Regions from separate parts of the Homo sapiens genome. Here regions 1 and 3 are each reported to be linked to region 2. The links are microRNA targets in miRTarBase. Many come from high-throughput screens and were not tested one by one. Region 2 holds a microRNA gene; each other region holds the end of a gene's coding sequence.
The links. The annotated mature microRNA hsa-miR-4799-5p reads AUCUAAAUGCAGCAUGCCAGUC and lies in region 2 at 2,417-2,438, shown strand. An mRNA with a match to its seed (bases 2 to 7 or 8) in the 3' UTR can be bound and repressed. Matches are read on the target gene's strand: a 7mer-m8 pairs with bases 2 to 8, a 7mer-A1 pairs with bases 2 to 7 and ends in A, and an 8mer does both.

Region 1: miRTarBase lists SGO1 as a target of hsa-miR-4799-5p. Seed matches in the 3' UTR shown: 7mer-A1 at 1,596-1,602 and 7mer-A1 at 1,553-1,559.
Region 3: the mRNA of ZBTB10 is a reported target of hsa-miR-4799-5p. Seed matches in the 3' UTR shown: 8mer at 1,263-1,270.

The regions. Positions count from the first base shown.
Region 1 is chr3:20,167,980-20,170,979 of GRCh38, forward strand. It overlaps SGO1 (shugoshin 1), which reads right to left. Exons shown (of 8, transcript NM_001199251.3): 8 at 1,505-2,836. The coding sequence ends at 2,725. Among named protein-coding and RNA genes, the nearest start is that of SGO1-AS1, 4.8 kb to the right of the region's middle.
Region 2 is chr4:147,780,188-147,783,551 of GRCh38, forward strand. It overlaps MIR4799 (microRNA 4799), which reads left to right and starts at 2,408; the gene lies at 2,408-2,481. The region is part of intron 1 of ARHGAP10 (Rho GTPase activating protein 10); the gene reads left to right. RefSeq lists enhancers at 242-381, 712-761.
Region 3 is chr8:80,519,032-80,522,031 of GRCh38, forward strand. ZBTB10 (zinc finger and BTB domain containing 10) reads left to right here. Exons shown (of 6, transcript NM_001105539.3): 6 at 192-3,000. The coding sequence ends at 497. Among named protein-coding and RNA genes, the nearest start is that of LINC02986, 19 kb to the right of the region's middle.

The sequences.
Region 1 (3,000 bases), not on the chromosome of region 2:
GAAAATAATCTACATCTGCCAACACGGATAAATCTCAAAAACAATATTGAGTTAAAAGTCAGTTGTAAAATGATGTGTACAATATTCCTATAAAATGTTAAGATATAAAACAATACTTAAAAGCCTATGAACAAATATGACAGCAAGACTATAGGAACACTAAAAATACAAACAATTCAACACTGATTTTAGGATAATGATTGACTTTGGGGATGAAGGGAAGGTAAGGATCAAAGCTAGATCAGAGTGTCAGACCAGAATGATCTTTAAGGCAAAAGTAAAGTACTCAATGGTCTAGAGCAGGAGTTGGCAAACTTTTTTGGTAAAGACCAGAAAGTAAATATTTTAGGATTGTAGGCCAAGAGGCAAACTCAAGAATATAATGTAGGTACTTTACTGGAGTTCAAAGTTAGTGCTTCTATCATTAAAATTGATTTCAAATGTTTGCTTTTTTTTTTTTTTTTCAACTATTTAAAAACGTAAAAACTATTCTTAGGTTGAAGACCATCCAGAAGCAGGTGGTGTGCTAGATTTGGCCCATAGTCCAACTGTACTTTCTGTGATGATGGAAATGTTCAATATTTCCTCAATTGTCTAATATGGTAACCACTAGCCACATATGGCTACTGATCATTTGAAAGGTGGTTACATGGACTGAGAAACTGTTTTTTTTTTTTTTTTGAGATGGAGTCTCGCTCTGTCACCCAGGCTGGAGTGCAGTGGCACCATCTCGGCTCACTGCAAGCTCCGCCTCCCGGGTTCACGCCGTTCTCCTGCCTCAGCCTCCCAAGTAGCTGGGACTACAGGCGCCTGGCTAATTTTTTCTATTTTTAGTAGAGACGGGGTTTCACCGTATTAGCCAGGATGGTCTCGATCTCCTTGACCTCTCGTGATCTGCCCGCCTTGGCCTCCCAAAGTGCTGGGATTACAGGTGTTAGTAGTTTCTCGTGCCTGGCTGAGAAACTGACTTTTTAATGGTCTGTAGTCTTAGTTTAAGATAGCTACTCTAGTGTTTCCATGAAATTAAAGAATAAGTATGAAGGGAGTAGTAAGAAAAAAAAAACTTAAAAATTAAGAGACTGTGATGGAAGACTAGGGTGTATGAATCAGTGATGTGGCGGATAGAAAAATTTGGGATGATGAAAAGGATTTTGGCTCTGACTGACATAGAATACAGAAAGATAGGGAGATAACAGCCAAGAAAATCTGAGATATCAGGATTAGAACAGTCCCTCAATAAAATTATAATTTGTTAATCATGAACTGGGAGATTACACAGAGATAAGTTGGGAGAGAGAAGTGTTAGGTTGAAAGTATGGAGGGGAAGCTGAGAGTTTTATAGCAATGACTACTGAAAATACTAAGGATTAACTCACCTAGAACACCCCCCCCTCAAAAAAGAGAATACCAAGGGGAGGGGAGAGGAAATGTCCAAGGATGAGAATAGTGAAGACAGAGAGATACTCTATTTTTGATATTTAAAGAATAGAAGGAAAGCAATCACTATCTTATACAAACTTTATTGCTCTTTAAAAATGAATAACCTACAAAGTTCTAAAATTTAAAGAGGTATATACAAGTATAGACATCAAACTTTCTAAACTGAACTAATTCGCTTTCATTGGTTGGTCAAAAATATGCAAAAACCCTAAATATTCACACATTTAATCTCTGAGATTTCTGACTAAATAAGGAGCTACCCTGAAAGTACATGACATTTGTAATTTTATGGAGACATCACTCTGAACATACAATTAGAGCTTGGGGTTCACAATTAGTCACTTATCTTGTCCCTGAGCCTAAAAAAGAATCAATTTCTCTAGTCATTTTCCCATACATATTTTATCTGAAAAATTAAATATAACAGTGGTATAAGGAATTCATAAACAACTTAGGGTGTACCCTACTGTAAATGTCAAATATTTATTTTACTCGAATACTACACAGAGTTTCAAAAGATCCACAATAATTTATTTTACTCAAATATTGTACTAAAGAGTTTCAAAAGATCCTCTTAGAAAATCATTCACTTTAGTATCCCCTACTTAAGGGAAAAATAGAGATGCCAGAAGCTTATAATTAAAAGATCTTATTTGAGTAATCATTATTCATTTCTACAATGTTTGTATAAGATACATTTTGGGCTGGGCACAGTGGCTCAGTAATCCCAGCACTTTGGGAGGCCGAGGTGGGCAGATCACCTGAGGTTGGGAGTTTGAGAGCAACCTGACCAACATGGAGAAACCCTGTCTCTACTAAAAATACAAAATTAGCCGGGCGTAGTGGCACATGCCTGTAGTCCCAGCTACTCGGGAGTCTGAGGCAGGAGAATCGCTTGAACCTGGGAGGCGGAGGTTGCGGTAAGCTGAGATCGTGCCATTGCACTCCAGCCTGGGCAACAAGAATGAAATTCCGCCTCCAAAAAAAAAAAAAGATATATTTCGACTAAAATTAAGAGGTTTAGGCAGCATAAGAAATCGATATGATGATAATGCTTAAGCTCAGTTATTTATATTCAAAAGAAAAAATAAATTAAATTTATTAAAGTTTTAATACAAAGCATCCCATTTGAAGTATAGTTCTGAAGAAATGTTTATGAGCTAGGGTCCTGTCAAGAGAATATTCTATGGCAATGGCTCACTCTGTTTGTGTACTCTTACAGATCCTCTCCTGAAGCAACAGAAAGAGGTGTAGATTGAATTTAAACAATATCCAACAAAACCTTCATTGTATTTGTTTCATACTTTTTTTAGAACGTCTCAAATCCTTTTTCTGCTTGAAAATAGGAGAATTCAAAAAACACAAATCTGTAAAAGGGTCCCCTCTTCTCAGTTTCCTGTAAGAGTAAAAAGAGATCTCAGGCATAATGTAAGCATCCCAATATTAACTTACTCTTCCCTACCAAGTTATGGTAAAACACACCAATTTTAAATGTTCTCACTTCAGTTTTTTTAAATCAAATGTTTATATTTCAGAAAAAACTCATTCTTGAACAAAGCT
Region 2 (3,364 bases):
ATGGCTGCACTCGTTTCACTTCCCCTTTTCTGTGGCTGTGGGTGGATCTGGGAGCAGAGCTGGTCCCGTGTCTGGATCAGGGCCGAGGCTCAGCATGCCAGTGTGTGGAGTTAGGTGACAGATTCTGCCCTACCTCTCCTCTCCTACCCAGTATCTAGCTACACCCCAACTTTGCATGCGGTCACATTACTGGGAGTGACAGTAGCCCCGCTAAGGGTGAAACAAAATGGTACCATAGTGGAGGAGGGAGCCCGGTCAGCAGGCTTGAAGGAAAGAGGGCAGTGTTTATAGAGGTGATGAAATGCTGTGCTCAGCTTGGTCTCATTTGCGTGTCTTTTTGAGACTTTAGGGCCTTGGGAAGAAGGAGACTAGGAAAAAAAGACTGAACTGTATTATCAGTGCAGGGAGCAGGCAGCCCTGTTGTGGGATTCCCCTCTTCTCCTTTGCATGGAGAGGGACTTGAGAAGGGGAAGTCACTTGCCTATCCAGAGAGAAGGAAATACCCAGGTCATAACAAGCCTGCCTCATCTTGTGGGTGGTATAAGCAGGGCAGCAGCCATGGGGTGACAGAAAAGGCAAGTAGTAACAGAACTTGAGACACAGCAGGGTGAGCAGGTACCTAAAGGAGTGCTGCCGGCATGGCATCCTCTGAGAGCAAGTCCACCTAGGGTGGACTGGGCCAAGGGAAGATGCCTCACTAGGCTGGTATCATCAATTTTGTGTGGGTTAAGCCATTTGTCCTCCACCTCCCACTTTTGGGAGAATGAGAGAAGACGCTCCAGAGAATGAGAGAAGACGCAAGGGCTCAGATTTGCATTTGATGGTGGGAAACTTAACCCTATAGATTTAGGGAGTAACTGTTAGTGACCTAACCTAGGACTACTGGCGGGGCCGGGCAAGGTGATTCACGCCTGTAATACCAGCATTTCGGGAGGCTGAGGCGGGCGGATCACGAGGTCAAGAGATCGAGACCATTCTGGCTAACATGGTGAAACCCCGTCTCTACTAAAAAATACAAAATTTAGCTGTGCCTGTAGTCCCAGCTACTCAAGAGGCTGAGGCAGGAGAATCACTTGAACCCGGGAGGTGGGGGTTGCAGTGAGCTAAGATTGTGCCAGAAACTATTGGGGGATAGGTAGGTGTGGCAACCGTTTAATTTTTGACCAAACTGGGACATGATTTCATATTTACATTGGGCTGGACCTGGCAAGCCAGGATGTAGGCTCACCCTACATATGGGGAATATGCAAGTCATATATACACATTTAAAAATACGGGGAGCTACTTTTACATCTTAAATACCGCCTTGTCAAGACCCTCAACTATGTTCATACTATGACATTTTTGTTTTGTTCTCCATTTTTAAAAAAGGGTATAGTAGTCCTTATTATGACTATGTTGCCATACTAAATGTTTTACTAAGAATATCGTTAATGGCTAAGTGTTTCACCTTCTAAATGTACCAGTTTTCTTTCATTTTTTTCTTTTCTTTTCTTTTTTTTTTTTTTTTGAGACAGTCTTGCTCTGTCGCCCAGGCTGGAGTGCAGTGGCGCAATCTCGGCTTAGTTTTCTTTATTAATTGCATACAATTACTAATCTAGATTTCTTTCCAGCTATTTGTTATTATAAGTGATAGCAAAGTACATCTTTACGCGTCAGTATTTCCATAGTTAAATTCTTAGTCAGATTTGTATAATTCTTGATACATATTGCTAAACTCTAGGTATCTATTTTAAATCTGAGTTTCCACATTGGAAAACTGACAGTTGAGTTTCATTGATTTCTGAAATACGGTAAAATAAGTGGCTTTTAAAAAGTCGCTGAATAGTTTTACCGCTTAGTATGTCTCTTGTGACCTTGCCTTGCAAAGGGGTAATATAGCAAAGTAACAACTTGAATGAAGAGAACAGTTTTATTGCTAGTGCAGCATTTGCCACATTGCCATAAGGTGAATGTCCTGCAGAGAGACTGAATCATACTGAATTTAATTGTGGTGGGTGTGTGGGGTTTAGGCATACAAATACTTGACTCTGAAAATTGACAGTTTGGCACAGTATGGTTGAAAGATCATGTATTGGGCGTGTTGAACTACGTTGAGTTTTCATGAGGAGCAAGACTCTATGTCTTTGAAGTTGTGTAGTGTCATGGAGTGCTGGTGGCATTTTCCACATGGCATATGCGTTTTATTATCAGCATGAAATTAATACATTTTCAGGAGTGGGTTCTTCCGGTATGAGTCATTTACTAGTTAGAGAATACTTTGTGGAAACAGTTGTCAGCAGAAAGAGTCGTCTTAACATCAGCAAGAACTAAAGCTGAGAAATCTGCTTTGTGAGAACTGTGTACATCGCTGGGTCAAATGACCTGAAGGTGTTTTGTAAAGCCCTGTGTGGTAATCGGTTCAGTCACTGCTAATATCTAAATGCAGCATGCCAGTCCTGAGATGCAGGGACTGGCATGCTGCATTTATATATTAGCAGTCTGAGATGCCCAGTACTGACTGTGGTACAACTTGTTCTGAGGGGTCAGACCAGTTTGCAAACAGGAAAGAAGAGACTTCTGGAAAATTTATGTGTGTAAAGACTTCCTGGTTAGTTTGACAGCATTCCTGAGTTATTCACAGCTCAGCTAGTCTCTAAAGACTCCAAAGACCCAGGAAAAATTTTCATATATATATAAAAACAACATAAAATATATATAACATATATTACGTATTATATATAATATATAAATTATATAATATATAAAATTATATATTATATAAATTATATATAATATATTAAATTATATATTATATAAATTATATATATTATATAAATTATATACTATATGTTAAATTATATATATAAATTATATACTATATGTTAAATTATATATATTATATAAATTATGTGTTAAATTATATATTATGTAAATTATATGTTAAATTATATATTATATAATTTATATAACACACATTAAATTATATATTGTATAATTTATATAACACATTAAATTATATATTGTATAATTTATATAACACATTAAATTATGTATTGTATAATTTATATAACACACATTAAATTATGTATTGTATAATTTATATAACACACATTAAATTATGTATTGTATAATTTATATAACACACATTAAATTATGTATTGTATAATTTATATAGCACACATTAAATTATGTATTGTATAATTTATATAGCACACATTAAATTATGTATTGTATAATTTATATAGCACACATTAAATTATGTATTGTATAATTTATATAGCACACATTAAATTATGTATTGTATAATTTATATAGCACACATTAAATTATGTATTGTATAATTTATAGAACACACATTAAATTATGTATTGTATAATTTATA
Region 3 (3,000 bases), not on the chromosome of region 2:
TAATTGTGAATTTAAGGAAGATTGTCTCCTAAATTGCTTTAAACAGTTTGACTTTATGAACTGATAGTGAGCTTTTTACAGAGAAACTGGTGTATTCACTCACTATTAAATGTGTGGTTTAATTTGAGTGGTTCAAATGCATTCTATTATATATAATATCCTTATATTGGATTTTTTCCCCCTCCAATTAGGTGCATAAAAAGGATAAAAAATACAAATGTATGGTGTGTAAGAAGATCTTCATGTTAGCAGCCAGTGTTGGAATAAGACATGGATCTCGACGTTATGGTGTTTGTGTAGACTGTGCAGATAAATCACAGCCAGGAGGGCAAGAAGGTGTAGATCAGGGACAGGATACAGAATTCCCTCGGGATGAAGAATACGAGGAGAATGAAGTAGGAGAAGCTGATGAAGAGCTAGTTGATGATGGAGAAGATCAGAATGATCCCTCTCGATGGGATGAATCAGGAGAAGTTTGTATGTCTCTAGATGATTAACTGACCTACTATACTCCTCAAGGATGCTGCATTTGGACCTAATATGAATCGACAATTTGGATTGTTGAACTTGAAGGCTTGCAAAATATGGTACATGCTGGATAGTAGTTATGTTGCTGTGAAAACTGTAGGGTCAAAGCCTTATAGCAAAAAAAATTTTTTTTTATATTTGCACAGGACTATACAGCAAACAACCATGTGGTTGGATTACATGGAGTCCCCACATACTCAGTCAGTTATCAAAGTAAAATATTTTTTATTTATAGGATATACAGTAACTATTTGGGTCCTATGAAAATAGTCCTTAAAGAGCTTACATTCATGTGCTACTTTAACATGAATGGAGAAAATCCGTTTATGGAAGTACAGTGACAATTGACCCAATCACTCTGTCCATCAAACCACTCAGGCTAGTTTGTACTAGTAGAGTTTTGTTTCTATTTTTATTTTTATTAATTTTATTTTTTTTAATACAGATTTTCAGTGAGGGGCTTTTTCAACCCCATTGGTTCTATTTTCTTGTATTTTTCCATTTAATTTGCTTCATAACTTAAACCAAGTCTCTTCTAGTCTTAGGTATTATTTCTCGATTTTGTGCTGATGGGCATGTTTATAAGAACTGGAGAGGTAATTTATTGGAATGAACTAACTGACTTCCTCCATTCCCCTCTTCCTTTTTGACATGAATTTTACTACTTCACAAATGAAGAATGATGTTATGAAGTTACCGTGGCGAAGTTGACAAATACCACTAAAATGATTATGATTTAGAAGTAACTTTCTTCTGCTGCTCTAATCTGATAAATGGTTACTATATGATATTTTCTGACATGGTATTTGGTTTTGGGTATCTGTTACTTTGGCACTATTCTTGTTTGCCTCTTTATTTTTGCCAGTGTACTATACCTCAGTCCTATTTGAAAGACCTAATTGAAAGAAAAATCATAGAAATAAGTAAAATGATTTGTTTTATAATTTATCCACCATGTCCAGTTTGGTTAGCTTGTTATGCAATATAAGTGAAATATCAGGTTTTTACCCGTGTCCCTTTTATCATGAAAATTAACACAAAATGTGCATTCTCTTTTGTTTCATACTTAGCGGGATATTGATTGTTTTGAAATTATGATCAATACTTAATTTATTTTTTTCTGTCCTTGAAGTCACTACACCTTGATACAGTCTTTCTAGTAGTCACCATGATTCAACAGTCTCAAAAATCTTACAAATAAAATTCTGAGAAGCTTTATTATTCTATAAATTCTTCAGGGTACAAAGGGTGACATATTGAGGTGAAATTGTCAGATTTACTTAGCCTGGTGACATGAATTAGCTGATTGTGGAACTCTCAGCAGCATTTCACGTATTGTTAACATGTATGGCATTTATTAGCATATTGTATATTATATAAGATTGAGGGATGTCATATTTTCAGCTTTCTTTTAAATAAAAATTGAGTATATTTTCCTATTTTATATCAGGTAACTAAATTATGCTAGTTATGTGGAAAAAATTGCAAAGATGCTTTGACAGATATAATCCCTTTGGTGCTCCATCTGATCAAAGTTGAAAAGTTGATGTTTTTTAAGAGACAAGCTTTATCATTGTCTCTGATTTCAGTAGAATAATGGTTTATTGTTAGACAATGATGTTTCTGCTTGGATAAATCAAAGATAAATTACAGTTACATGGTTAGATGCATCTTTTGTCATCTATATTGTAGTTTCTACATAACTGTAAACCTGACAGATAAGAATAGTTTCGGTTTGATTTTTGTTTAAAACAGATGAGTACTTCTTAATGTTCTAGACAAATGAGTAAAATGTATTTCTGGTAGAAATTAGTTGGGCAAAGATACTATGAATGAAAAAGTATTTTAAACGTAAAATGTTCTTTGTGAATATGTAAGTATAGTATAAAGATTTCTTTCATCCCATTTATCCCCTTCCTTTAAATAAACTAGTTTACAATTGGTAGATCTGTCTATATATAAATATATATTAAAGAACAAAGATATATATCTAAAAATCACCTAAATCTGCTTTATTAGACTACAGTTCACTTATTGCATAGAAACTGGACTTGGCTTTACATTCTTAATGTACTTTTACTTTTCCTCAAGATATGAACTTACTCTCTTGAAGCTGAATTTTCTTTTACTACTTAAATCATTTATGTATATCTGGTAAATTATGACCAAATTTTTGTTAGATTGCATACAGTAAATTGAAATACACACTTGGTACACTACGGGATTGTTGTGCTTTTGTTTGGTTTTAGTTGGAAATAAGGTTTGATGTAGATGGCTTGTTACTGTTAATTTAAAATATTCTATAATTGTCCATTACTTTATGTTGTGTTGTGACAGATTTGGCTATATTTTTAGTCAATTGAAATATGATACTTTAAAAGTTTGTTTTTAGGTAATCCAAAGGAAAAGTGTTTATACTCTTGAATATATTAGCCTCAGCCTATATAAAAATTTCTTTGAAGTAAACATTTT